Linked DNA regions of Homo sapiens: region 2 is linked to region 1. Evidence: fine-mapped expression QTL. Tissue or cell type: whole blood. Region 1 holds a variant in brackets; the other region holds the start of a gene. All regions are shown on one strand. Distances are from middle to middle.

What was found. PIP is the estimated chance that this variant, and not a neighbour inherited with it, causes the effect.
Region 2: it holds the start of OCIAD1, and the variant in region 1 is fine-mapped to the expression of OCIAD1 in whole blood (TOPMed, PIP above 0.99).

The regions. Positions count from the first base shown.
Region 1 is chr4:48,854,443-48,857,246 of GRCh38, forward strand. OCIAD1 (OCIA domain containing 1) reads left to right here. Exons shown (of 9, transcript NM_017830.4): 8 at 2,771-2,804. The region is part of intron 1 of OCIAD1-AS1 (OCIAD1 antisense RNA 1); the gene reads right to left. Among named protein-coding and RNA genes, the nearest start is that of OCIAD1-AS1, 4.4 kb to the right of the region's middle. The variant T/C (reference allele first, on the strand shown) is at 1,425.
Region 2 is chr4:48,829,901-48,832,704 of GRCh38, forward strand. OCIAD1 (OCIA domain containing 1) reads left to right here and starts at 1,188. Exons shown (of 9, transcript NM_017830.4): 1 at 1,188-1,349; 2 at 2,720-2,782. The coding sequence starts at 2,725. RefSeq lists enhancers at 756-1,135, 978-1,541, 1,542-2,104.

The DNA of each region.
Region 1 (2,804 bases):
AACCCTGGAAAGCGAAACCACAGATAAGGGGGCACTACTGTATTCTAGACATGCACTAACTCTTTCCTTGTGATGACTTGCATCTTCCCCACCATTTGCATTAGGAAATTCTGTTATATAGTTTTTTTCCATACAAAAGCCAACAAACAAAAAGCCCTTTGGTATCTACCCACAGACTACTTAGCAAGGCCATGTCTTAATATTATTTTATGCCTTCCACAGCAGCCATCCATCCATCCACTGCTCTGCCTTCTGACCCCCTTCTCTAAATCAAAGTGGCTACTTTTTTACTGCTCTCCACATGGGCCAGCAGTGGCCTGCTTTTGCTTTGCCCCAGATGCTATCCTCCCCTACCAGGGCATCTTATTCTTTGGTTTAAGTCCTACTTTAGTTCTGCTTTCTTTTACCAGGAATTCAGAGAGTTATTAATCTTTTAAAATAGCAAGCACTCCTTCAGAGCTGTTAGGAGACTTAGAGTTTATTACAGTTAGATTTAAATCAGTGCCACTTTACATTTTTTTATTCCTTCCAGTTCTTTATAACCTTCCCAAAATAGTAAATCATGTTCTCTCCATAGTGTGGGAAATTCTCCCCAGTCTTCTTCTGTCTGATGTATATTTTCATTATTTGTTCCAGAATTTTATAATGGTAAAATATTTTTTATAAGAAAAAGTATTAGACCTGGAAGGAACTTCAGAGATCATCTGCTCAAACTACCATATTTCGCAATTGAGAAAACCAGGATTCAAAGAAGCTTAGTGATTTGCCCAAGGACATTTCCTAATTGTCAGCAGAGTGGGGTTAAGAACCCAAGGTTCCTGAAGTACACACGATTTCCTTCAGAATTTTTAATATAACATATATGGTGAAGGGAAATGAGTTCAGTAATTACTTATTACTAATGAAATGCAAAGTGTTTTAATCCCAATATAAGGTTATAATATTTTTCTTTACATTCTTTTTTTAGTAAGAAAAATGTAGTTTTGAACCATCATATAATACTAGAACTAATTAGGAGAAATTTAAATCCTCTTTGCTTTATATAAGTATAGTATATATTTATTTAGCAGAATAAATGTTTATGGTTGAAAATGGCTGGGTGCAGTGGCTCATGCCTGTAATCCCAGCACTTTGGGAGGCCGAGGCGGGTGGATCACCTGAGGTCAGAGTTCAAGACCAGCCTGACCAATATGGCGAAACCCTGTCTCTACTAAAAATGCAAAATTAGCTGGGCATAGTGGCACATGCCTATAATCCCAGCTACTTGGGAGGCTCAGGCAGGACAATCACTGGAACCTGGCAGGGGGAGGTTTCAGTGAGTCGAGATTGTGCCCCTGTGCTCCAGCCTGGGTAACAGAGTGAGACTCTGTCTCAAAAAAAAAAAAAAAAGTTTATGGTTGAAAACATTATTTAATGTATAGTTA[T/C]GTTGCTTAGAAAATTCTGATTATTCACTGGGATCCTACCTTTGAGTTCTAAATAAGTATCACAAAAATTATTTTTTAAAAAGTTAATATTAAAAGTATATGCCCAATTTGTATGTCTTATTGAAAACATCTTTGAAAAACAGTACTTTTGGTGTGGTATGTGGTAGGTAAGACTTTGTAAGTTAAGTAGTTGTTCACTGAATGTTAGCATCTTTTTTTTTTAATGTTCATATGGCCTTTTTTGCTGTTTATAAATTGTATAAACTATGTTCACTATTTGATCCTGTCAACCAATATTAGGAGTAACCACTGCATTATATTTACATTTGACTCTATGATAATATGTAATATTCACATTTTGACTCTCTTTGGGAGAAATAAAGAATAAATGTTAGTTCCCAGGCCAAAATAACAGTTGATACTTTCTTCTGCATCAACATTGCATCTGTTAGACTGGAATGAAAACAACACATATTCTGATTAAAGGCTATGTTTTATACTTTTCAAGTAATTATTTTCAACTTTTTTTCCTTTTTTTTTGAGACAGAGTTTTGCTCTTGTTGCCCAGGCTGGAGTGCAATGGCGCGATCTCAGCTCACTGCAACCTCCGCCTCCTGGGTTCAAGCGATTCTGCCTCAGCCTCCTTAGTAGTTAGGATTACAGGTGTGTGCCACCACGCCCAACTAATTTTGTGTTTTTAGTAGAGATGAGGTTTCTTGTTGGCCAGGCTGGTCTTGAACTCCTGACCTCAGGTGATCCGCCCGCCTCGGCCTTCCAAAGTGCTGGGATTATAGTTGTGAGCCATTGTGCCTGGCCTATTTTCAGTATTTTTGTTTAAATTTTGTAAAAAGGTAAAATAAATGATTTTTGAAAATAGCTGGAGTTGTTTTCATAGAGTCTGTGGTTATAGGACTATTTAACTATATATTGAGTAAAATCTATGCTATGTCAAGTTTTATTCAGTTGTCCCTAGTAGAATATATTTCTCTTTTAATTCTGTATACAGTATGAGTAACTCCAGTTTAAAACACTGGTATTTTAATGAGTTTAAATTGTACTGTTATATATTATGATACATATTTTTCTTCTGGCTGTGGTTTAGTTTTTAAAATTTTTGATGTCCATTTTAATTTTTAGAAATAAAAGCTTAAAAATATGGGTGGAAGTAGATTTCAGTTTGATGATTATCTTGGTGAAAGTATAGTACCTGTGAAATGGTGGTAATAATTTGATTCTTTATTCTATTTTGATTGTAGCTCCTTTTGTAAGGAGCATTTGTAAAATTTAGTTGCTTTAGAGTTATACAAATCCTTTTATTACCATTTATTAACTGTTTGTTGTTTTAGGACCTGATCCCAACCTTGAAGAAAGTCCTAAAAG
Region 2 (2,804 bases), 25 kb before region 1:
TGCAGTGACAGCAGTATGGACAAGCTAAGGACTAAGAAGGAAGAGTGATTACTTCTCTGGGGTGTATTTCAGGGAAGGCATCACAAAGGTGGTGATGTAAAAGCAGAATTTTGAAATATCGTTAGAATTGACAAAGCAGGGAGTAGAGTTGTACTGGGGAAACAGTGCACAGAGAACACTGAGGGCAAAGACCTCCAGGCTGTTTCTTGTTAGTGAACCCTGAAATAGAAGAAAGTGACGCTCAAAAGGCACAGGCACCACCAGGCCATGATGGGCCTTATATTCGGTGCATGACTGGAGCTATCAAAAGACTCCAAGGAAGGAAACACAGCGTTGGATTCGTTTCACGTGACTGTCTCCCTTAAGTATGTCTTCGGGAGAATAAATGTTAAATGATAAAGTGGCAAAGGGGCTCAGAAAGAGATGAGAAACCTGAGAGGCTTTGAGGGGTTGACAAATAGTAGGACTGGATTTGCCCACTGTTTAGTCACTAATAACTTGCAGTACATGGCACTAATAAATACTTCAGGAAGGAATGTATGAAAATGAGTAAAATGCTGATTGGCTGGGTGTGGCAGCACCATGTCTGATGTGTAGAAGTCGTGAGCCCCCTCATTAATAGACAGTGATGTGTTGTTTTAATTCTAACAACCCTATATGTAATTCCACTTTTCAGGTGAGAAAAACCGTAGCCTCAGAGAGATCACGGTACCCTGCCAGAGGTTGTAGAACTTGTTGGAAACTTGGATCAAGAGGGTGTGACAAATAACCAGGTATGCATGCTTAAAAATTACTTTCTACTACTTAGCCTACAGGCTCAAAGAATGAAATTATCTCATAAAAGAGATAATTTATAAAGTCGCTCTCAAAAGAGGGACAACAGAGGGTTCCGGAACGTTCCCGCCAGCCGCCACGAGAAGACCAGAGAGGTGCATCACAACAGCCCAAAGTCAAGCCTACTCCCAACCCCCTTCCCCGCCATCCAGGGAAGGGGCGGGGCAGGGTTCTTGGTCCGCCGCTGTCGCCTGCGCAGTCGCAGTGCGGCTCGTGGCCGCAGCTGCCTGAAAGGGCAAAGGGACGAGTATACGCATGCGTCTATTCCTAGGCTGCTGGCTCTCAGACCCGCAGTGAGGTCTGACGTCATTTCCTGCCGTAAGTATACAGTGCCTCCGGGTCGCGGTCATTTTGAGCCCCTGTCTGGATGACTTCTTGCGGCTGTTCTACCCCTCCCCCTCCCCGCGGTACCTTGCACTTTTCTCCCTCCCTGCCCCCTCTCGAGTCCACCCTCCGGGCCTTCTGCCCCTGATCGCTTGGTTTTCCTTGCAGTCGCCTGCTGCTGTCGTCGGGAGGTGGGTGAGGTGACGCAAACAGCCCCGTTGTTGCCCTCCGCGTATCCCCTCACCACCTTTGCGGCCATCCACGACTTTCGCACCTTCCGCCATTTTCCTGCCTGTGAGGGTGGACAGATCGCGCTCGGGTCTCGGCCTCCTGAGTGCCGGTGACTGCGGGAGGCGACGGAGTGCTTCTGGGGGTGTGAGCTGGGGAAGTTCGTGGTCACGGATGCGTGTGGGGTTGCTGCTCAGTCTGTAACGGCAGGTGGGAGACGGACACTGGGTGGAGGATGGAGTGCGGTAATCAGCGGTTGTAGGCCGCTTAGGCTTTAATCCAGCGTTGTTTTGTGTAAAGAACTTAAAATGGTATTGTCTTAAGCGCCGTGTCAGCCCTGACAGTCTTCCTGGTGTTTCTAGGAAGGATGCCGTTATGGGAAATAAGAGGGTTTCATTTTTTCTCATACGGTTGTAGGGTAAAGGTAGTTTATTCAGCAGGCTCCATCCATCCATGAATTCAGCTGACCTTTTTTATTTCTTTTCTCTAATTAAGGGGTTGGCATGTAGTAGGCCTTCATGGCTTATTGACTGAATGAATTATGGAAGGGCTCAGTTGCTGTCCTCATTGTGTATGCCATTTCCTGTTTCCATGCAAATTGTTTTTAAAATGAGAATAATCATGATCCCACGTAAACGTTCTGTAAAATACGGTTACTTGATCTGTTGGTCTGAGTCCCAATATATGAGTTTTTAAAAAAAGAACCAAATAAAAAATGTATATTCTTGGAATTTTATGCATTTTTTTCTTATATTCTTGGGGTGGAAGGAAATTTGGAGATACAGAATTTGCTGTTAGTTTTACCTCACAGGGAGAAGGATATGTCGTCTTTGTTATTCCATAATTTTGGAGTGCTCCTTTGTGGGAGAGGTTGAATGTTTCTGATGATTATTTCATTTTTTAATATGGAAGCTCAGAAATGACTTGAAATTTTTTTTCTCTTCTATTTTGGGGAATTATCCTAATCATTGGGCATAGATTCGAGAAACGACCAAAACATAGGATGTGAAAGAACCCACTTCCAGGAGGAAAAAATATGTCTGTTATTTTATTGATATCTTGATAGTAAAAAAAATTATAAACTTATAAAACGCATATGCTTTTTCAATTAAGGGACTTAACCTGAATAGTGAGTTCCAAATTAATCAGTAGGTCTGTTACTTTTTCATCTAGCTATTTACATGTGGAGTACGTAAGATATAGTAGTGTTTAATAAATATTTGTTGATTGATTGCTGTGTAGACTAGTAGTTTTACTATATCATACGTCTTGATTTACTTTGACCTATCTAGTGATAGTTTCTAATACTTAATATGTAATGTTTTTGATACAGGAAAGATGAATGGGAGGGCTGATTTTCGAGAGCCGAATGCAGAGGTTCCAAGACCAATTCCCCGTAACTATCTATTAAGTATTTA